Regions from separate parts of the Homo sapiens genome. Here all the other regions are linked to region 3. The links come from fine-mapping of genetic effects on gene expression. A gene starts in region 3. Each other region holds a variant in brackets. All regions are shown on one strand. Distances are from middle to middle.

Region 1 (6,225 bases), 23 kb before region 3:
CAATAGTTACAGAGGATAGGATGCATACAATTTCTGTCTTTTTTTTTTTTTTTTTTTTTTTGAGATAGTGTCTCACTCTATCACCCAGTCTGGAGTGCAGTGGCACGATCACAGCTCACTGCAGCTTCAACCTCCTGGGCTCAGGTGATCCTCCCACCTGAGCCTCCTAAGTAGCTGGGACTACAGGTGTCTGCTACCACACCCGGCTAACTTTTTTTTGTATTTTTTGTAGAGATGGGTTTTCGCCATGTTGCCCAGGCTGGTCTCAAACTCCTGAACTCAAACAATCCACCCACCTTGGCCTCCCAAAGTGCTGGGATTACAGGTGTGAGCCACTGCACCCAGCTGCCTTTATTAAAAAGTAAAGGCCATCCCAAATCCCAGCTCCTACCTAAAACTTCCTTTTCTCTGAATTCCTACAGCACTTTGAGCTTCACCGCTCATCCTTGAAATCTGCCTCATTATATTAGCAGCTTTGTTTCACGACACTTTAAATAGACTGTAATGAAGTTCCTTGCAATCAGGTTTAGTGTATTTGCAAAGTAAATCAGGTGCAGTGGCTCACACCTGTAATCCCAGCAATTTGGGAGGCTGAGGCGGGCAGATCACTTGAGGCCAGGATTTCGAGACTAGCCTGACCAACGTAGTGAAACCATGTCTCTACTAAAAGTACAAAACAACAAAAAAATGCCAGGTGTGGTGGCACACGCCTGTAATCCCAGCTACTCCAGAGGTTGAGATAGGAGAGTCGTCTGAACCTGGGAGGTGGAGGTTGCAGTGAACCAAGATCAGGCACTGTGCTCCAGCCTGGAGACTGATCAGGCACTGTGCTCCAGCCTGGAGACTGATCAGGCACTGTGCTCCAGCCTGGAGACTGATCAGGCACAGTCTCCAGCCTGGAGACTTGGTTTCAAAAAATCAGATAGCACATAAACTCCAGGAAGGCAGGGACTCTGTTTTTGTTCTGTACAATATAGCCAGAAGCTGGCATATAATAAGAGCTTAATAAACATTTGTTGAATGAGGGCAGAGTGCATTGGCTCCTGCCTATAATCCCAGCACTTTGGGAAGCTGAGGCGGGAAAACTGCTTGAGCCCGGGAGTTGGAGGCCAGCCGAGTTTTGTAGAGACCCTGTCTCTTGTAGGGACCTGGAAAACGAATGAACTTGAATTTCAGCTGCTCTATAACTTTTTAGCTTTGTGACACCTGAATTATTCACTTCAGAATTTATTCATTCATATATGTATTTGACAAATATTTGTTGCATGCCTTCTAAGAGCCAATCACCGTGGCTCTTAGTTCAAGAAGATATGTCCCTGCCCTTGAGGGGCTCAAGCATTTAGTTATGAAGGCTGTTACAAGGATGGGGGAAAGGAAGTCAGTGTGAGGCCTAGAGGGAGCTGCAAGTAGCTCTATAAGGCAGAGGCATAGGAGGCCCTCCTGGGACAGATCGCCATGGGCCTCATCTGCCACATATGGGAATGTGAATTTAAATATCAAAACTCTAGGATACCACCAAGGGACTGGAAATTAGGAAGAGTGAAGGACAAATCTGCATTTTAGAAATCCTATCCAGGTGGCAATGGGGAGAGGGGTTGACAAGGAGACCTGGTTACTGCTCTTATCTAGTTGGGAAGTGACAAGAGCCAGAATAAGGCAGTAGCCATGACAGACATGGCCTCAAAAGTGTGGATCTGAGAGTAACCAAGGAAGTCCAATCAGTTGGACTTGGTGAGATGGGCAAGACGGAGGAGGAGTTAAAGGTTAACAACCAGGTAGAAAACACAAAGGCCTCAGCCATGGCAGTAGCCATGGGGATGGAAAAGGAGGGACAGATAGGAGAGTAGGAAGGAGAGAGTCTATTGGATTTGATGATGGGGTTTGGATGAGGGGGCTGAGAGAGAGGACATGAATCTTCCTAAATACCCAGATCTCTGTCTTGGCTAACAAGGTCAGCGAGTCAGAGATGATGGGAAGAAAAGCAAGTCTGAAAGGCTTTGGTAAAGTTGCCAAATCTCTCTGAACCTCAATTCATCCATTTGTAAAATGCCAATGGTGATTTCCAGCTCTAAGAGTTGTCATGAGAATTAAATAACCTGGAAAACTGCAGTAGACACTCAATAAACACTTTTGGCTGATTCTAATAATGGTGCTTGCTCGTGTGCCACTTAATCCTCATATAACCCTATATGGTAAGTACAGTCATTATCTCTATTTTACCAACGTGGGAACTGAAACACAGAGATATAAAGAAAATTGACCAAAGTCAATCAGTTAGTAAGTAGCAAAGCCAGGTTCAGAACCCAGGCAGTCTAGCTGCAGGGTCTTTCTTAACCACTTTATTATACTTTTACTGCTCTTTGGAACCTATAACGGGGCTTGAGGGAGGAAGGGAGGAAATGGCAGGAGAGATGGACAGACCTGAGCCAATAATTCATTCTAAGAGCAGTTTTTATTTAGAAATGTGCTTCCACAACTTGGTGGCCACCTGGGGGCAGGTAGCCCCGGCTTGCTTGTTCTCTCTTTCCTAGCCCA[A/G]GAATCGGGTCCTTGGGTCTAAAGCACAGGGCCAAGTTCTCAAGGATCAACATCCCAGACAGCTCCCATGGTCTGGGGCTTGGAGCTGGTATGAAGGGTGAACCAGGTTCCATCCTGGACTGTTTATGGTTGGAGGGCCTGGGCCCCTGGCACCAGGACCTCAGCTCCCTCTCCTAGTAAGAGCTGGGATCACCCACAGGCCAGCTGTGGCCAGGTCCTGGTGGATATGACATTGGGAAGAACAAGGGGCTAAGAGAGGCTAATTTTCTGGTGCTGGATCCAGTTTATCTTCCTGAGGGGTGGAAGCCGGGGCAGGAGCCTCATCCCCACCATTGAGGGACTTCTGCTGCTCATTGCTGTTGGGCGAGGGGGTCCTGTTGCCCTGGGATCCCCAGCGGGTCAGGCGCTTTAGGGAGGAGTCACGGTGGGCAAGCAGAGGGGGCTGGAAGCCTGAGAAGGAGCTGCTGGTGACCGGACGCTTATCTGGCAGAGAGAAGGCAGGCAAGTAAGGAGAAAGGCATGCAAAGGTGAGAGGCGAGGGGCCTTGCCTCAGCCCTCAGAGGAGAGGGGAGCCTCCTGACTGCCAGTCCTGCTTTTGCTGGCCCTGGGAGATCTGGAGGTCTCCCAGGGAGACCTTTCTCCCTCCTTTCTCCCTCCCAGCTCCAGGGAAAGCTCCAGAGTCTATTCCTTCTCACCTCCAGGCTCAATTGGATGCATCAGCCGGTTCATCTGGACATTCCAGTGTTTCACGTTGGTGCTGGCCTGGCGCAGTTTTCTCTGGGCAGCCTGTGGGGACAGGGCCAGTGGGGAGTGATCAGAACCATCATCCATGGCATGGAGTCTTGATCTTTTCAGGTTCGCAGGCTGCTTAAAATCTGACCAAGACTACTGATCATCTCCCCAGAGAAAAACCATATATGCTCATAGAGTTATTAATACATACATGAATAGAGTTTGCCTCCAATTTCATGGGACTCATGGACTTCCAAAAGATAAAATGTAACCATAATAATAGTTTCCGTTTATTGAGCAGCTAAGATGTGCTAAGCATATTTATTATCTTATTTAACTTCCAGAGCAGAAGTTAACAACAAAAAAGTTCAAAAGAGGTTAAGTGACTTGCCCAGGGATACACTTGAGCTCTAAGCCACTGCACTACACCACCTTTCCAGCACCTAATCCAAGAACCTCTGTTCAACATTTCACGGAGCCATTAGCAGTGGTTGTGAGGTGGGGGGGATCATGGAGGAATTTTCCCTTTCTATGTTCCATATTTCTGTGTTTGAATTTATGGAGATTAAAGCTCCAAGGAGTAGAGCCAAAGTACAAGGATAGCAAGACAGGGGCTTGGAAGGGTAGAAGGAAAAATTTTTCCCCAGATTAATAATGATGTGAACAAAGATAGCAGCAAATGTTTCTTCAGCACTTACTACGTACTAAGTATCATGTATCATCTCATTTAATCTTCATAACAACGCTATTACCAGTTTCCCAGGTGAGAGACTAACTCCAAGAAGTTTGGGCATTTGTCCAAAGTCACACAGCCAGCAGCTGCTAGGGCCAGGGTTTGAGGGAAGGCAGCCTGGCTCCAGAGCCTGTGCCCTAATGAGCTCACCCTGCCAGCCTCCACCCCATCCCACCCCAGGCCTCACCTCCACATCCTCGTCAGCCCTCTGCCGGTTCTGCCGCACCTCCTCCAGCTGCTGCTGGGCCTGCTGCAGGGAGCGGCTCTGCTGTGCCATCTCCTGCTGCAGCTCTTCCTTCTCCTGCTGCGCCCGTTCGATGTAGCGCTCCTGCTCCTCCTTCAGCTGCATCAACTGCTTCAGCTTCTCTTCCTCCTCTTCCAGCAGTCTGCCGGGTGAGTGTGTACTGTGTAGCCTCTAGTGCCAAGGCACCTTGCAGGTGCACAGCAAGCAGGAAAACTGGGGTGTGTTCCAGGAGGGGTGGTGAGAGAACCAGAAGAGGTTCCTCAGGCCTACCTGGTCTGAGCGATTCGCACAGATTCTTCATCTCGCCGAGCTTTCACCTCTAGTTGCAGGGCCTCCTGCAACCGCTGCTGCATCTCCTCCAGCTCCTTGATGCGCTGCCGCTGCCGGGCAGCCTCCTCCTCCTTCAGCTCCATCTCAGCCTGCATGGAGGCCCGGGCCTGTGGAGGGGGGAGGTGGTGGACCAAGAGCCAGGTCAAAAGGGGCACGTGGGGGCGGAGGAGGAGGGGGTGGGCATGTTGCTAAGCTGCCTAGGGGTGAGGGTCTGGGGAACTCCTTCATGTTGGGGTTTCCTGATCTGACCCCTTTCTGAGAGCCTGACTGGAACAGATAATGGTCGGTGAACAGATGCCACGTGGGGGAAACGGGCTCAAGTTATTTCCTTCCTAGTACCAACCTTAATCATAATTATATAACATGTAATTAAACAACATTATATAATTAAATAAGATATAAAAATATGGTCATCTCCTTCCTAGCACTAACTTAATAATTATTATAATATATAATAATATGTTATAATCATGGCTGATGCTAGGAAGGATGTGACTATAACTACAATTATTACAACAAAAAGTTACTGGACACTACAAGTGTTTCCTCATTTAATCCTCACCGTACCTCTGTGAGCAAAGTTCTATTAGCATTAGCATTTTACTGATAAGGCTCAGTAAAATGAACTTGCCTGGGATCACGGGGCTCGTAAGAAGCAGAGCTAGGATTGAATCTACGTGTTTCTGACTCCAGATCCAGGTTTCTTAAATCCTAAATCTAATTGCCTCTGCACACCTAGTCCGCCTCCATACGCGTCCCGCTTGCCTCTCAAACTGGTTTCACTGTAAACTTAGTTCAAGTCTAGTCCAAACTTGGTCCAGTCTAATCCCCAATCACACGGTCTTCAACGGCTCCTTCTGCCCAAGCCCCAACCCACAGCCAAGGTCTCCGAACCAGGCCCCATCCATCCACGGGCTCGGACCTCGCCCCACACCCCTTTCCTAGCCCCAGGTTCTGTCCCTGGCGGAAGCCCCATCCCAAATCTCTTTTTCAAACCCGCGGACTCTGTCCCAACAATCCCTCATTTCAAGCTCCACCCCAGTGCACGCCCCTCAACCCAGGAGCTCCGCCCTCTGCCCAGGCCCCGCCCCCGGCGCTCCGCCCCTGGCCAGCCTCCCAGCCCACCGGTCCCGTCCCCGGCGCCGGGAGCTAACCCCACCTGCTCCGCCTCGCGCAGTTGGCCCTCGAGCGCCTGCTGCAGCTCGCGGTGCTGGCTGCGGCGCCGTTCCTCCTCCTCCTGCAGCAGCCGCTCGGCCTGCCGCTGCGCCTCCTGCAGCAGCTCCAGCTCCTGCAGCTTCCGCTCCTTCTCCTCCTGCAGCTGCTGCAGCCGCAGCAGCTCCTCTTCCTTGGCCGCCCGGCGCCGCTCCCGCTGCTCCCGCTGCTCGCGCCGTTTCTGCTTCAGGTCCTTGTGTAGGGACGTCTTCCCCTCGGCCTGCAGCCGGATCGCCATCTGGATGGCTGCCGAAGAGCGGGAGCGGGTCAGTAGGATCCTCGCACACGGCCCGAAAGGGGCCTTAGGAGTTTCCCGAGTCCACTCTCCAACCTCCCGCTGGACAAAGTATTATCACCCCCTTTTCACAGATGAGGCGCCTAAGGACCACCCAGACCCAAGCCACCTAGCGAGCACTCACCAGCTGTCCACTCCTGGCGC
Region 2 (6,212 bases), 110 kb before region 3:
GAGTGGCCCTCATCCAACAACTGAAGGCCTTAAGAAAAAAGACTGAGTGCCTACCGTGGCCCCACTGTGGAACAGGAAATTCTGCCTCCAGGCTGCCTTTGGACTTGAGCTGCAACATCAACTTCCCCGGCTCTCCAGCCTGCCTGCCTTTCAAAATTTGGACTTGCCACTCCAACAACTGTGTGAACCAATTCGTTAAAACACATCTCTTTCTTTCAACACACACACACACACACACACACAGGTTCTCCTTCTCTGGAGAACCCTGACTAATACAGTGACAGAGCAAGAATTATAACCTAGAACCATGCAATTCCTGGAGCTGAGCTCTTAACCTCGGCATCTCACTACTACGCATACCTACATGTTCAGTACCGCTAATCAATAACATTATTATGATGAACAAGAAGACACAGTCACTGCTGAGGAGGCACCATGTCATTATCCAAATGTTTGGATTCAGTGTAAACACTAGCCCTCTCACCCAGAGAGTAAAGTATCAGTTTCACCATCTTTGATGACAAGTTCAGCAAATAGACACTATTGACCTTATTCACATCATTTGTGGCTGAGAGCTCTCCTGCATATCTAGCCTCCAATGCTGGGAGAATGCCGTTGTCATGGCTGTGAAGACAGCCAGGAGGCGCCCGATTGGTCTATTTACTTTGCTGGCAGAGCTCACAGGCAAACAAGCACCCAGCAGCTTCTGAAGTCAGGCCAAATTCTGCAGGGATTTGAGGCTGGGTTACTGAGCAGCCTCTTTACTTCTGCTGTCCTGTTTGCCTGAACTGTGGGCTCCTTGGGACAGGCACTCAGCCTTGTCCACCACTGTATGGCCAGCCCTGGGCACAGTGCTGGGCCCAGCCTGATGCCCACCAAGTGCTTGCCAAGTGAGGAGGTGCTGAGGCCAGGAGGAAGGACACTTTATCTTCCTCTTTCTCAAGGGTGATTGGGATGGATGTCACTGAAGCAGGAGGGATGAGAATGGGAATGGGAGGTGAATCCTGGCTCTAGCTGTCTCTACTCCTACACGCCCAGGGGACCCTGGCAAGTGGGTTTCTGGTAACCTCAGTTTCCTTGTTGATGGGAAGGTCTGTCCTGCCTGGCTGGGGGGAGGGTGAGAAGGTGCATGGCAGGTGTTGAGCTCAATATCTGCACTGAGAGTCAGTGCTGAACTGCTGAGGAGGGTGGTCAGGGGTGACTGTGGAGCCTTCCTGCTGTTTCAGGGCTCAAAGCTGTGCGCTGTCCTTATGGGTCCCTCAGGGGACTCCCGAGGCCAAAGTAATAACTCATGGGGATGGGGCAGAGAACTAGCAGGTGCTGAGACCTGCGATGTGTCACATACCCCCACTGACTCTCACCTGGCTGGCCCTCAGGCTGGGTAGGACACAGCCTATAAAGGTGAAGAGAATGAGACTTGGAGAAGTGATGGCACTGGCGAGGGCTACAGCTCACAGTGACAGACCTGGGATGCCTGCCCTGGTCTCTGTGATCTCCAAGCCCTTCTGCTCTGGACACATGATCAGGCTCTGTCTCCAGGGCCCCTCACCTGCCAGATCCTCACCCCCCTTTTAAACAGTTAATTTTACCCTTAAAAAAAGTACAGTTGCCTTTCAAATTATGGAAGTAGTGCAGACTTGTTGAGAAAAACACAGAAGGGTATGCAGGATCTTATGACACAGCCTCCTTAACCATGATCCTGCTCCTCAGAGTTAGCCCCTGAGTCCTTCGGTATAGACTCTTCCGGTGCCTTCTATGAAACATAAGGATTTTAAACAATGGGATCCCCAACTTGTCAGGAACTTATTTAATATATATATAAACCAGCCTTATCCTTTTCAATGACTCCAGAGTATTCCACCATATGGCTCTACCACAGTTTACATAACCAGTTCCCCACAGATGGGCACGTTCCTATTTTTGCTCTTATGAGCAGTCCTGCAGTAAATAAGCTGGCATGGGAATCTCTGAGCATGCTGAGCAAGTACTTACACAGGACACGTTCCTAGAAGTGGGAATGCAGGGTAAAAGAAATGCACACTTGGCCAGGTGTGGTGGCTCACACCTGAAATCCCAACACTTTGGGAGGCCGAGGCGGGAGGATCACCTGAGGAGTTCGTGACTAGCCTGGCCAACACAGTGGAACCCCATCTCTACTAAAAATACAAAAATTAGCCAGGCACGGTGGTGCACGCCTGTAATTCCAGCTACTTGGGAGGCTGAGGCAGGAGAATCGCTTGAGCCCGGGAGGCAGAGGTTTCAGTGAGTTGAGATCGTGTGCCACTGCACTCCAGCCTGAGCGACAGAGCCAGGCTCTGTCTCAAAAAAAAAAAAAAAGAATCACACATTAAGAAGTGTTGGCCCACACTACCCTTTCACCCCTGGTGGTGGGAGGACCAAGTCCTCCCCACCCATCTGACAGGTGAAATGGCATTGCAACTTAAGGTGCTTTCTTTGAGTTGGTTAGACTGAAAAACCTGTCGGGATTTCAGGCCATTCGTATTTGTCTTACTGTTACCTGTTCTGATTTTCCTGCTAGGTTGCTTGTCTTGTAGAATTTTTGGGAACTTTTCATACACTACAGCTTTAACACAAAGTGATTATGTCAAGTAACCCTCTCTCCTGTTTCAATGACTGAACAAGGAAGTCTATCTCCACTTCATCCACTTATTGATAAACAGAATCTATTAAACACCACC[G/T]CCTACATAGTACCATGTGACTGGTGAGGCAACCTCTGCCCTGGACGTTTCCCGCTGTGCCCTAAATCCCACAACGAAGCTGCCTGAGAGGTCACCGCCATGCCTGCCTCACCCTACCCCTGCTCCCAGGCACCTCACCTGGCCTGCACGGGAACAGTGATGCTATTTGGGAAACAGCCCTGGTCCCAAGAAGGGGTGTGGAGGAAACTCCAGGACAGAACACTGCTCTGCAGGGGACTTCCATCTGCCTGGGCTCAGATGTGGGGATGAGGTGGGCCACGGCAGGCGGCATAGCCACAAACCCTGTGGCCGTCTCTTCTCCTTGCATTCTCCCCTGAATCCTCATGACATCCCACACTCATTCTTAGTCCCCACTGTCTTCCCTTTGCTTTCTAACCCTCCCTACCTTCTTCAGATTTAGAACAGTATGTGCTACTGGCACTGAGTGAATTATCACTCCTGGTTAGCTGTTCCTCTCTTCTGAGACAGGCTGTGTCTCCAAAGCCATCCCAGTTACCAGCCAATAGACAGGAAGTTGCTTACTCGGGGAATGGCGGACACCTTCACTTTGGCCCTAGAATCACATTTGGCCTACTTTGGTCACTCCCAGGTGATCCTGGGTGAGATGAGAAGGACTGAATGATGGCTCTATACTCCCTCCACCCAACTCTATACACTGAAGAGGAAGAACTTCTGCAAAATTCTGGGACTTGCTTTGCAGGTTCAAGGTGGTGTGGCTCCAGGATTCAGACCCATCTTAGCTGCAGACCCAAACAGGAGCCTGCGCTACCTCCACAGCCTTCACCCTGCCTTAGCTTGGACACTAACTGCCTCCTCCTGCTCCATGCAGTCACAGGGGTCCAGAGCCCATTTCTGCGGGGTGGGCTTGCTCCTCTGCCTGAGTCACCGCCTGTGGCTAGGATCTCCTGCAGCTGAAAGCAGCAGCGAGTGCAGGGTGTCTACTCCCAGCAGTATATCCTTATGACCCTGAGTTCCCTCTAAGGGGAGGAGCGAGGATGAGCTGCATGTGCAGGCCTGCAGCACTTGGGTAAGGAGAGAAGTGGTGGGAGAAAGCAAGAAGCAGAGGGATCAGGCCAGGCGCGGTGGCTCCTGCTTGTAATCCCAGCACTTTGGGAGGCTGAGGTGGGTGGATTGCTTGAGCCCAGCGGTTCGAGACCAGCCTGGCCAACATGGTGAAACCCCATCTTTACTAAAAAAATACAAAAATTAGCCGGGCGTGGTGGTGCACGCCTATAATCCCAGCTACTCGGGAGGCTGAGGCAGGAGAATCACTTGAACCCAGGAGGCAGAGGTTGCAGTGAGCTGAGACTGTGCCACTGCACTCTAGTCTGGGCAACAGAAGGAGACTTTGTCTCAAAAACCACAAAAACAAAAAAGCAGGGGGAACTGCAGCAGGGAAAGCCAGGGGCTGCATGGATTCTGGGTGCTTTTGAAGGTAAACATAACATGATGATGATGAAGATGACAGAACAGTACAGGGTACTAGAGAAAACTGTCTGCACTGCTGATAAATAAAGGGGAACCAATAAGTGAGACAGGAGAAGCTACAACTGCTTGGCTGCATAAAAATAATATTAGTTGAGTTATTCATACTAACTGCTTAGCATTTTTATCTAATTATGATACGGCTCAATGATGATGTGTATAATTATTACCAGACCAATTGAACTGTGTGTTTCGACTGATCATAACAATCCCAGGTACAGCTGATCTTTCTAGTGTGCTGTTAGTGGAGATTGGTCTCAGATGCCTTGTGTTAACAGTGGTGGGAATACTAATAATGATGATGACATGTGTTACAGATGCCCACTCATTTAATTCTCACGAAAGCCCATATCCACATCACCTACCATCCTTTGGCCTGTTTTACAGAAGGAAGTGGTGCAGCTTGCTCCAGGCCCCACTGCTGGTGAGTGGCAGAGCAGATCCCCACCGCACTGGGCGTGAACCCAGGCTTCCGGCTCCAGTCCTTCAGCACTCTGCTACTCTGCGCCCCACATGATGGCGTTTGCAGAGGGCCAGGATCCCCACTGCACTGGGCTGTGCCTCCTCTGCCCCGTGTCCCCTGCCAGTCCTCTCCTCACCTGTGTAGCTGCTGGAAGGAAGTGCATGCTGTGGTCCCCCATTGAGCTCTGGGGCTCCTTCTGCCTCTGCCACTTCCTCTTTCTCCTCCTCTTCCCGGACCTCAGGGGCTTCCTCCTGTGGCTGCTCCATGGCTGATCTCCCCTCGGCGCCACACCTGCAGGCCCAGTCATAGCTCTGGCATCGTCTGGGTCTGAACGCAGATGGACCTCTACAGGGTGGTTCCCATCAGCCTGGGCAGAGGAGAAGACAGGAAGAGGTCAGGGGAGGCAGTGACAAGGAAGAGGATGGTGCGAGTGGGGCACGCTTGGGGGCTGCTGTCATGGAGGGGGTTCTTCTGCTCCTGCTCCTTCCCTAGTTCCTGCAGTGCTATACCATGGTCTCTGCTCCTTGTATCACAAGTCACCTGCCCTATCACCCTTCCCACCTGGCTCTTGTAGTGGGTTTGTGGGGTTCGGAGCAGGCTCCATAAACTAGAGAGGTGACACATCACTGTGCCACCCTTCCCTGCCTCCTCTGCTGCCTTCTGTTCTGAGTCTCCAGGAAGCACATTGGAATGACTTGAGGGGCTTTTCCCAACTCTCCAGCCCACCTGGAGATCCAGATATGCATCACGCCTCCCATCCCCGACCCTGTCCCTATCAGCACTCAGGCCCAAGAATCACGGCTCTGCTGTGCTACTGTTCCTGAAGGGGTGAGTCCCATCCTTTCAGTGGTTGGGTGTGGAAAAAAGACATAAAGCCCTGCTGTTCTTGGCTCATGTTGACAGCAGATCTGCAACCATGGCCTCAATAGCAGAGACATCAGAAAAAGGAAGATGTGCTCCATCCTGGAGTCTTTCCAAGGTGACAACTTACTGGGTGGTGATGCCACGTCCACATCACCCAGGAGGAGACAGTTCCAACCCTTAGCAAGTAAAACATTATCCACAAATGCCACAGTCAGAGATGATAAGATCATGAGGTACTGTGGAGAGTCTCCCAGCGGGGAAATGTCTGCACCAGACCTTGTGGAAGGATCAGGAGAAGAAAAGATCTGCTTTAAGATGTTAAGCATCTGTGGGACCCCAACTCTCAGATATTTTACCGACAGCTCAAACTCAATCTATCCAAACAGAACCCATCATTTTCCCCAAACCCATTCGTCCTCTAGTAATCTTTACTTTAGCAACCCACCTGCCTGTCTACCCACTCATCAGAACCAGAACCTGGAGTGATCAGAGACTCCTTCTGCTCTCTCTCCCTGCTCTAGACCTGCCAACTCGGCTGTACACTGTAGTCACTGGGGAGTTTTTAAAAAGACAGATGCCTGGTCCCATCCCCAGAGATTCTCCTTTGATTGGTTTGGGGAGCAGCTTGGACATTGGGTTTCTTATTTTTTAATTGTCCTGGTGATTGTAATGTACAGCCA
Region 3 (5,000 bases):
CAAGAACTCACAGCCCTCAACTCCTGGGAAGTTTTGTGTTCAACCTAAATCCATCCTGGGCAGGAGTGCCATTCCTATTGGTTTACTTTCTCTGTTCTCAACCCAACTGGATGAAGCCATTGTACTTTCTACAAGAATTCAAAGAGAGAAAGAAGTATCTGGTTTTTCCCTCAAGCCTTCTCTTTTCCAGGAGAAACAACCCTACTCCTTGGGCTTTTCTCAGAGGACGTGCTGTTCTTCCTCCTACCCTCTGGCCTCATCGTGGGTTTGCCCAGGACAGCCACTGGGAGCCCGTCTACCAACACATTAGGGGAGAAGTGGCAAATGTCACGCACCGACACATCTTGCCCTGGGCTAGTGCAGGTCTCTTGCCAGGTTCCAACCCAGGACCCTAACGCTAGGGATGGTTTTAGTAACCAGCCCAGTGAGGTGGCTCAAGACTATAATTCCAGCTACTCAGGAGGCAGAAGCCAGAGGATCACTTGAGGCCAGAAGTCTGAAACCAGCCGGGGCAACATAATGAGACTCAGGCTCTAAAAAATAAAAAATAAAAAAATTAGCCAGGCGTGGTGGCATGTGCCTGTAGTCCCAGCTACTCAGGAGGCTGAAGTAGGAAGATCGCTTGAACCCAGGAGTTTGAGGCTGTCGTGAGCTATGACTGCACCACTGCACTCCAGCATGAGTGATAGAACAAGATCTCATCTCTAAAACAACAACAAAAAACCAGATTGACTCCAAGGTCTTTTCCCTCATCCCCAAGTCTTTTCTGGGGAGAGGTGGGCCCTGCTTGTATAACTCTCTCGTCTGCTTCCTCCTTTGCCTTTTGACCACTTCTCTATTACTCCTTTGCTTTGCTGGAATCCCCGCCCCCCAACACTATCACTACTTCCTCCTCTTCCAATATTCACTATTATGGGCTTGAAAGGAGCCCCGCCATTTCCGCCCCACCCCCACTTGGCCCCTGAGACTCCCACTGTTAGCCCAGGTTTCCAGAGTTGACAAGTTTTCTGTCAAGTAGGAGGGAACTCTATAATTGATCCTGTGTGACCAGAGATGTTGCTGGCAGTAGGTTCAATATGAGCTGTGATGAGGTACAGACAGTGGACAGTTCAAGCATGCAAGCTCTCCATGGAGTATTTCCCTAGAAATACGCAACCTGTGGGGATGAGGGAGTGGGTAGTGGCCCTTTTAGAGGGCAAGACAGAGGCTCAAGCTAGGAGGCTTTACTGGCTGATGGCACCAGGAAAAGGGGAGCCACTTAAAGGCTGTACTTTCCATGTGAAGGGCAGAGAGAGCCTGGAGAGGTCTCAGTGGCCACAGGTAATACAGAAGTGGAAAATGTTACCCTGGAAGCAAAAAGCCACGGGGGCTGGTATTGTCTGGCAAGATATTAAAGGGACAGGGTGGGAGGTAGGGGTGGGACACAGAGTTTGCAGAAATGGATTTTGGATGATCGACTTTTTTCCATTTATACTGAGGACCCAACCAAATGACATGATCTGCAATACAAGAGATTTAAATAGGATGTAAGGAAGAATCTGCCTGTTAGGAGGTTCTCCCTAGGTGACAAAAGATAGTAGTGGGCTCTCCTTCCTGGGGGAGTGAAATCATCTATTAGATGCTCACAAATCCAGGTAAGGAATTTAACATAGGACCAGTTTGGGATATTCAAGTTCCTCACATCCAAGTTCAGTAAAGTAGGGGGTTGGAACGGTGGTGGGGCACAATAACTGTTCTGTCCCATTCATCTCTCAGGTATCCAGCACCCTCTACCTCGGTCATTAAGAATGGAGGTTTCCTTGAGACCACACGTCTCCTTTGGAGGATGGGGCAGGGAGACACCAGTTTAGTGCCTAGCCACATGCCAGGCACAGAGCCTCACGAGGGGCACTCAAGTACTTGCAGAGTGAACGAAGGCACCCCTATGGCAGGTCCTAGAGAGCTGAGGCCTACCTTGCTCCTTTCCCCCAGTGTTCGCTGATTCTAGTGGCTGAGGGCCTTGCTTCCTCCCCACTAACTAGGGTAGGGAAGGCAGCACTACTGGAGGACTAGAGGAAGAGAGAGAAAAACTCCTTGGCCTCCCAGAAATTGTCTAGGCCAGATGATTGACTTCAGGACAATCATTGATTGGGATTTTCCTGGGCTTAGATTCTCCCCCTTCCCTACCTGAGGTCTCAAGGCCTAAGGTAAGTTTCCCAACCTGATATGTGTGGTGGATAGGGGGGTGAGCTGCGTAGCAGTATAATAGGGTCCTCAGTCCTCACCCACTCCGCAGCTCTGTCCCACCTGGCGGGCAGGGTTAGACAGGCCAGACAGGTTTGGGACTGGGGGCGGCCCCTTTATGCCTCTCTCAGCTCCAGAGGAAATGACTGCCAAGCACTGGCTAACTGTTTCTCTTGAAAGTCAGGAGGAAGCAGCAAGAAAGAGCACACTGCGTGCCCAAGCATGACTCTGTGGAGGTGTGTGTGCTCATCACACAGAGTCTGGGATGTGGCCTGGCTCCTGGCCCTCAGAACCCCATAATGGCCCTCAGAACCTCCTGGCCTCCAGTTGTGGGGCCCAGTTCTGCGCAAGGTTTCTGCACACACTTCACTAGGTCTCTGGAGGGTGGGCAGCGGCATCTACCAGGCTACGTTGGCCCAGTTACCCAGGACCAGCCCCCCGACCCCAGGCCCGGGACGCTGGATGGCTGGGTGCCCCTGGAGTGGCACAGTGTCCACACCTGGCTCCCAGGCGGCAGGGGCTGGTGTGGTGCATCTGCCGTCCTCCCCCGGGTCCCGGGTGCCCCTCACCTTGAGCTGGGACTTGGAGACTTTGCCACTCTTCTCCACGTCCAGCGCGGTAAAGGCGTACCAGATGGACTTGAGCAGTTCCTTGCGCAGGGCCATGGCTGAGGCGCCCGCCCGGCTGGGGGCGGCTCTGACACTAAGATCCGGTTTCAGGAAATGCAAACGGCTGCAGAGACCGCAGAGGTGCCGTGGTGGAGCGAGAGCACCACCTGCCTGCACATTGCGTGAGGCTCTGTGCTGTCGAGAACCCTGCCTGTTGTTCTGGCAGTGCTCAGAGGCTCCACTCCCTGCATGGGAACTGGGGACCAACTCTCCGAGAGCGGGAACCCTCGTTCTGTATCCACGTGGCTCCCGGGGCATGTGAGGCCCTTTTAGAAGCCTCCTCAGACCCGGAGGCTTCTGGAGCCTTCCAGGGCTCCCAGACGCAGCTTGCTGAGGGAAAAAGCAAGCTCATCCTGATATTGGGGTCAGACAGAGTAAAGGTCCAGTCCTAGTTCAACATAGGAGGCCTTGGGTAAGTTACTTAACCTCCTTGAGCAGTTTCCTCATTTGTAAAGCAGGAAAAATGCCTCCGTGTTGTAAGAATGTCTGAGAATGGACGTAAAGCACATAGTAGGCTCTGGGTAGAGCTTTTGGTGCTACTTAACATTACCATGGTGGTGGGACTCCATCCAAGTGGAAGGAAACAAAGGCAACATCACAAAGCTGGAGAAGGAAATGGGCCAGGGCACCTCTCCAGGTCAGGATGTGGCACTTGACTTGCTGGCTCCCTATCCCCTCAGCACTGGCTCTAAACGGTACTCAGAGCACTGCCCACTCTAGCCCCAGTAGCCCTGAAGACACTGGAAACTTCCTGAAACACATGGGGGTGAGCCTTGTGGTGCACCTCAACTTTAAGGGTCCCAGCAGCAGCAGGCTTGGGATTCAGGGCCCTCCATGTCAGTGCTTCCTTTCTTCAGATCCAGTGTCCAAAAGGACTGGGACACGCCCACACCAGGAATGGTGGTCACAGATGTTGAAGACATCTGCTCAGGCCAATTCTAAGACACCTCCCCCTACCCCCTAAGCCAAATAAAAATCCCTCCAAGTAAGGTGCTGGGAATACCTCCTGCCTGGAAGCACGCCCCCGCCCCTCTCTTCCCAAGGAGCTGGTGGCAAGAGTAAATGGGAGCTTTCTAGGCATCCTGGGAGAGGATGCCTGGATCAGAGGAGGGGGTTCCAATCCTAGGAGGCAGGAAGGGGTTGGGGCATATCCATCACAGCAGAGAGAGGAAAAGAGGCACCACCAATCCCTGCAATGTTCCTGTGTAGGCAGAGTCAAACCCAGAGCTTCTTCCCATCAAGTGCCTTCCCCTGTATCCCTTCTTCCCCCTGGAGCTGATCTGGTCTCACCAACTCACTTTTCAGTGGGGTCTGATTGTGGCTTTGAAATCCCACAGCACAGTCCTAGGCACCTAGGTGGGCACCCCCAGAGCTGGGTAATAGAGCCAAGACTTCAGCTCCAGAGGCATCAGACTCTGCTCCTTGAATCTCAGTAACCTTGGCAAAGGTGTCCCCCAGCCTCACTCTAACCTGGGGCTTTGCCCTCTTGGAGAAGCTGACTGTGTGATTTGGGGGTGGCTGGGTTGGAGGGGCTCTGACTACGTTTCACAAGAAAAGGCAGGAAAAGAGTTCCCCCAGCTCAATCACATGAGGCCTGAGATTCAGCCAGAGCCTGGAAGCAGCGGTCACCCTGGTCCTGTTTGGCTACCCTGGAGCCCACCTGCTCAGCTGTGGGCAAGAAGCCACCAGCAGCTCCTCAGGGCTTTATCTTATACTGGGCTTCCTTCCCACCTGTGTCCCTGGCAGGCCAGCCCCACCACTCTGGCACCAAGGCTGAGTGGGGTTTGTGCCAGGGAGACAGGGCTGATAGCCTGATTTGACCAACCCTGCCACCCGGGCCTAGAGCTGAAAGGATGGAGGGACCCAGGTGGAAATTTGGAACTTTTATTAAATACTCATTCATCCATGTGCCACCACCACCCAGAGCAGGAAAAAAATTATCAAAATGGAATTAAAAAAAACAAAACAAATCAAACCCAATCCCCAGCAGTCTATGTACAGGGCCACTCCCTGCCTCTCTGCCATAGAGAGGTTGGGGGGCAGCTGAGGAGTGGTGGGGGCTGGGCACCTTTTCTTCAGCCACAGGCCCCTGAGGAATTAATTGACTGT
Region 4 (6,095 bases), 31 kb after region 3:
GAAACCCCATCTCTACTAAAAATACAAAAATTAGCTGGGCATGGTGGCACGTGCCTGTAGGCCCAGCTACTTGGGAGGCTGAGGCTGGAGAATCACTTGAACCCAGGAGGCAGAGGTTGCTGTGAGCCAAGATTGCACCACTGCATTCCAGCTTGGGCGACAGAGCAAGACTTGGTCTCAATAAAAAAATAAAAATAAAAAAAGCCTTGAGAATGTGTTACCTACGCAACATAAATAAAAAATTAAAAATAGAAAGTCTAAATGCATGCTTTGTACTCCCTTTGTTGGTTACAGGAATATCTATGATTCTCCATACATGAGGAATGGAGAGTCCAGTGTTGATATGATGGATTCCATGTTACTGATCTACAGCAAAAGCACATCCGAAAACTGAGCTTCGTGATTCATGGAGGCCATTCTATAACATCATATGGAAAGCTGATCAGCTGAGCATGAGGCAACAGCAAGTCTATACAGGACCTGAGGACATGGTGGCTTCAACATGTGTGTCCCCAGCCTGGTCACAAGGGTGGGTCTGGACGAAGTGGTGGCCTAAGCAGGGTCTACCTTTCCCCTTCATTGCTCCATGTGGCCACAGGACAGTATTTCCTGGGTTGAGAAGATGATCTCAGAGAAAGAACTCTGGTCTTAGGCACCCCTGCCAAATCCCCAACATCAAAGCCTCAAGTCAGTTCTACAACCTCAAAGAGCTCCCAGTTCCTTGGTTCTTATCTTAACTGTATGGGTCTCATGCTTTATCAACCATCCAAAAGTAGCAGGAACTCCCAACAAATGAAGTGATGAAGTGAGATAGTACCAGGGTAACAAGTTGTATCTGGCCTTCTTAGGGATGAACTATTCACCAGAGGGCCAGCTCTAAGGGAATGTCAAATAGAGGCACTAGAAAAGAGGCACTCTGGCTTCCAGGTAATGACAGTATAATGAGCCTGAGACCCCGAATGACCTGTCCAACATCACAAATCCTTCTGATTCTGAACTGGAAGAGAGGAGCCTGAGTACGCCTCATACATTTTTTTTTTTTTTTTTTTTTTTGAGACAGAGTCTCGCTCTGTCGCCCAGGCTGGAGTGCAATGGCATGATCTTAGCTCACCACAACCTCCGCCTCCCAGGTTCAAGCTATTTTCCTGCCTCAGCCTCCCCAGTGGCTGGGACTACAGGCGCCTGCCACCATGCCCGGCAAATTTTTGTATTTTTAGTAGAGATGGGGTTTTACCATGTTTGCCAAGCTGGTCTCGAACTCCTGACCTCAGGTGAACCACCCGCCTCAGCCTCCCAAAGTGCTGGGATTACAGACATGAGCCACCACACCCGGCTGGCCTCATACTTTTGCCAGCAAAAGAGACAATTGCATAGGATTTGTGAGACCATCACATTTCTATATCTTGACTGATAGCTGCCAGGGTAAAAGGCATTTGAAGTTTGTTGGCAGCTTTAGGAAACAGCACTCAAAACAGGTTAGGGCCATCTGTTAAAGACAATGGCTTCAGCTGCACTTGGATTTGTATTGCAGGTGGTTTTTTTTTTTTTTTTCTCTCTTTTTGAGATGAAGTCTTGTTCTATAGCCCAGGCTGGAGAGCAATGGTGCGATCTTGGCTCACTGCAACCTCCGCCTCCTGGGTCCTGGTTCAAGCAATTCTCCTGCACGCCACCATGCCCAGCTAATTTTTGTATTTTTAGTAGAGATGGGGTTTCACCATGTTGGCCAGGCTGGTCTTGAATTCCTGACTTCGTGATCTGCCCATCTCAGCCTCCCAAAGTGCGGATTACAGGTGTGAGCCACTACACCCGGCCAGGTTTCGTTTTTTTTGTTTGTTTGTTTTTTCTTTTTTCACTCTCCAGGACAAAATTTCCCCATTCCATTACGTGGTAGATGTTGACTATGTCTCCTCTAAACTAATTTTGTGGGTGACTAATTTTGTCAATTAGGATGAGCTATATCTTATACTCTTATCTGGTCAAAGAGACTCTCCTCACGATATAAACGTAGACATCTAAATGACACAAGAATAAACACAGCCACAGGGACAGTTTCCAGATGCAGTTAAAGGGTTACACTGCCACGGAGTGTGTTTTCCTTAACACCTGACTCTTTTAGGGGAAAATAACATTCTTACTTTCTGTTACAGTGATTATAATTTAAGTTCCTGGAGAGCATGCCTTTCAGCCTAATTAGCACCTAACAAAGAATGTGCCCACAGATACCAAATGATTAATACTACTAGGTTACATAG[C/T]TAACTGAGCTCTTTAGCTCAGATTTGAATCCTGATTCAGTTCTGCTTATTGTAATATCTAAGTTGAACTCCTGAGACCAGATATGAAACTCTTCATCTACCACAGAACTGTGAGCTTCTAAGAGAAGCTCCTGGCAAGGAAGTAAATGTTGAACGAAAGAATGGAGGAGGGAAGGAACTGAAGCCCCCACCACTCCAACCCTTCCCAACCACTCCCAACTCTTCCCTAGTCCAGCTAAGTGGATGACTTTTCCCTCATCGGGATTACCATCTTGCCTCATCTTTGACATGCACGTTCACTGTTTCCACGGAGACCCAGATCAGGAACAAGCTTTCCCTGGCTAATGTCACACTCCAGCCCCATGTTTCGTCTGCACTTGGCAGTGAAGCCACAACAGGGGGTTGTCTGCGGTGCTCCCTGAGGGCACAGATTCGTCTTCTCCATCATCGTATCCTCATGTGACATAGTGCCCACCACATGGCAGGCACTCACTGGGTATTACTTCAGCGAATGAAGGAAGAAATCTTATTGCCAATACCACTACCTGGTGTAGAACTCAGCAGTTTCCAAAATGCTCTCAGATACACATATATTATCATGTTTATTCTAAGCACTTAATTCATCAACTCCCACAATAGGAGGGGCTGAGAACACAACTCATTCCTAGTCTAAAGTGGTCATTTTGGCTGGGTGTGGTGACTCATGCCTGTAATCCCAGCACCTTGGGAGACCGAGGCAGGTGGAGGCTTGAGCCCAGGAGTTCAGGACCAGCCTGGGCAGCATGGTGAAACCCTCTCTACCAAAAATACAAAAATTAGCTAGGCGTGGTGGTGCCCATCTCTGTAGTCCCAGCTACTCAGGAGGCTGACATGGGAGGACTGATTGAGCTGGAGAGGTCACTGCTGCAGTGAGCCTCCATGATTGCGCCACTGCACTCCAGCCTGGGTGACAGAACAAGACCTTGTCAAAGAAACAGATAAGGGGCCGGATGCAGTGGCTCAAGCCTGTAATCCCAGCACTTTGGGAGGCCAAGGCGGGCGGATCACAAAGTCAGGAGATAGAGACCATCCTGGTTAACACGGTGAAACCCCGTCTCTACTAAAAATACAAAAATTAGCCGGGCGCGGTGGTGGGCACCTGTAGTCCCAGCTACTCAGGAGGCTGAGGCAGGAGAATGGCGTGAACCCGGGAGGCAGAGCTTGCAGTGAGCCGAGATGGCGCCACTGCACTTCAGCCTGGGTGACGAGCGAGACTCCGTCTCAAAAAAAAAAAAAAAAAAAAAAGAAATAGACAATAAAATAAAATAAAGCAGTCATTTTGCAGATGAAGAGACAGAGGCCTGCGTTGCCAGAGGAGTCCCAAAGGATCACATAGCTACCTGGTGGCAGAGCAGGGCCTAACACCTGACCACCAGTGTTCTTCCCATACTCCGCTGTCTCTTGCCAGGTGATGGTGTTCTTTTATTTCCTGAGAGTAGACATTTCCTAGGCTCCAAAAGACTTGAATATCCAGCTGCTTACTCAACATCTCGACTTTGATATCCAAAAAACACTTCGAACTTGACATGTTCAAGAGTGAATTCCTTATCTCCTCCTTCTAACAACCTGCCCTCCTTCCAGGCTCCCCAATTTCAGTAGATGGGAATTTTACCATTTTGTTACTTAGGCCAAAAATGTGGGAGCCAGGCAGATCACGAGTTCAGGAGTTTGAGACCAGCCTGGCAAATATGGTGAAACCCCATCTCTACTAAAAATACAAAAATTAGCCGGGTGCGCTGGCATGCACCTGTAGTCCCAGCTACTCAGGAGGCTGAGGCAGAAGAATCACTTGAACCCAGGAGGCGGAGGTTGCAGTGAGCTGAGATCACGCCACTGCACTCCACCGTGGGCGACAGAGCGAGATGTCTTGAAAAAAAAAAAAATTGTAGCCACCCTCAACTGCTATTTCTTTTATATATCACATCCAGTCCATCAGCAAATCCTGTTGGCTCCTTTCCAAATACATCCAGAAGCCAACCACTTCTCACCTTTCCATTGCTTCACCTTGGGTTCAAGCCACCAACTTCTCTTGTTTAGACTATTGTAGTAGCCTCCTAACCAGTTTCTCTCCTTCCATTTTTGCCCCGTTATAGCTTATTCTCAACACAGCAGCCACAATGACCTTTTCAATATGTCAGGCCATGTTATTTATCTGCCTAGAATTCTCTAATGGCTACCATCTCACTCACAACTCACACTACAAGCCAGTGGCCTGTGTGATCTGCCCCCAATTCACCCCCACCGCAACATCTGCCATTTCTTCTCTCACTAATATACTGCAGCCGTATTGGCTGGCTTCCTCATGTTTCTTGAATATATAGGGCACATTCCTGCCTCAGGGCCTTTGTGTTTGCTGTTCTTCCTGACTGGAATAAATTTCCCCTAGATGTATGCTTGACTTACCCCCTAACTTCCTTCAGGTCTTTGCTCAAATGTTACCTTTTTAGTGGGAACCTCTTCAACTACCCTATTTAAAATTTTAACACCCAGAATCCTGGCATTTTCTTCTTCTTCTTCTTCTTTTTTTTTTTTTTTTGAGACAGAGTCTCGCTCTGTCGCCCAGGCTGGAGTGCAGCAGCGTGATCTCAGCTCACTGCAACCTCTGCCTCCTGGGTTGAAGTGATTCTCGTGCCTCAGCCTCCCGAGTAGCTGGGATTACAGGTGCCTGCCACCACGCCTGGCTAATTTTTGTATTTTTAGTAGAGCTGGGGTTTCGCCATGTTGGCCAGGCTGGTCTCAAACTCCTGGCCTCATGTTATCTACCCAACCCAGCCTCCCAAAGTGCTGGGATTACAGGTGTGTGCCACTGCACCTGGCCTACTCCTGGCACTTTCTATCTCCCTTCTCTGCTTAATTTTCTCAATATATATTTTACTTATTTGTTTATTGTCTGTCTCTACCCTGTCCATTCCTCAAACAGTGAGCTCACTGCTCTATTCCCAGTACCTAGAAAAGTACCTGGCACACAGCAGATATTCACCAAATATTTGTGGGATGAATGAATCAGTGAATGAATGAATATATATACCTTTAGGATCTCCCAGTAACTTGAAACCTTTAGGCAAGAAGGGGAAGACCCTAGTAGAGCTCTGGTCTCTCTCCAGCCCTCAGTCCCTCTTTCCTCCTTACTGCCTCACCCTCTTCTCAGGTCCAGTCCAGCCCTATTCCACCAGAAACCATACCTAAGCTGAGAAGCAGTGCAACAGGTGCTTGATGCCAGGATGTTACAATTCCCAGGCCACTAGGTACAGAATTCTGCAGGGTGCTAATTTTTAAATTTAGCATCCTGATATCTCACAAACAGAAGAGGTCAGAGAAAGGTTAGGACTAAATATACTACTTAACCTAGATAACAGTACTGATTCAGAAACAGTAGCTCATTTGCTCTGAGGTGTTTTCCAAGGAACAGTGCTAAATTTGCACTTGTTCACCTAGCTGCCCCTGCCTTTAATCTTTTTATAATGGATTTCCAACATACACAAAAATGGAAAGAATGGTATAATGAACCTCTTGAACCCATTATCCAACTTCAAAAATTACCAACATTTTGCCTCCTTGGTTTCCTCTGTTCCTTAATCGTCTCTGCAACCCACACTAAATATTTCAAACTAGCTGTTTTCTTGAGAACAGATTTATATAAGACAGCCCCTGATGCTGTTACCACTGTATTTGAGCAACTGCGTCAAACAACCTATCTTACCAGAAATACAGTAGAAAAAGAAAAGCACTTACACCCATTCCCCCACCCGAGCAATGACTAAAAAAGGAAGTGTCTAAATTACCGACGTTTAAATCAAGGGACAT

Evidence for each region.
Region 1: its variant is fine-mapped to the expression of DEF6 in whole blood (TOPMed, PIP above 0.99).
Region 2: its variant is fine-mapped to the expression of DEF6 in whole blood (INTERVAL, PIP above 0.99).
Region 4: its variant is fine-mapped to the expression of DEF6 in whole blood (INTERVAL, PIP 0.93).

The regions. Positions count from the first base shown.
Region 1 is chr6:35,317,980-35,324,204 of GRCh38, reverse strand. It overlaps DEF6 (DEF6 guanine nucleotide exchange factor), which reads right to left. Exons shown (of 11, transcript NM_022047.4): 6 at 6,206-6,225; 7 at 5,734-6,032; 8 at 4,515-4,681; 9 at 4,188-4,386; 10 at 3,231-3,321; 11 at 2,434-3,018. The coding sequence ends at 2,795. Among named protein-coding and RNA genes, the nearest start is that of PPARD, 21 kb to the left of the region's middle. The variant A/G (reference allele first, on the strand shown) is at 2,536.
Region 2 is chr6:35,409,810-35,416,021 of GRCh38, reverse strand. It overlaps PPARD (peroxisome proliferator activated receptor delta), which reads right to left. Exons shown (of 8, transcript NM_006238.5): 3 at 4,805-5,035. The coding sequence starts at 4,934. Among named protein-coding and RNA genes, the nearest start is that of FANCE, 39 kb to the left of the region's middle. RefSeq lists enhancers at 4,301-4,833, 4,834-5,367. The variant G/T (reference allele first, on the strand shown) is at 2,700.
Region 3 is chr6:35,295,745-35,300,744 of GRCh38, reverse strand. DEF6 (DEF6 guanine nucleotide exchange factor) reads right to left here and starts at 2,927. Exons shown (of 11, transcript NM_022047.4): 1 at 2,793-2,927. The coding sequence starts at 2,888. It overlaps ZNF76 (zinc finger protein 76), which reads right to left. Exons shown (of 14, transcript NM_003427.5): 14 at 4,760-5,000. RefSeq lists a silencer at 4,426-4,590.
Region 4 is chr6:35,264,239-35,270,333 of GRCh38, reverse strand. All of the region lies in intron 1 of ZNF76 (zinc finger protein 76), which reads right to left. Among named protein-coding and RNA genes, the nearest start is that of ZNF76, 7.6 kb to the right of the region's middle. The variant C/T (reference allele first, on the strand shown) is at 2,253.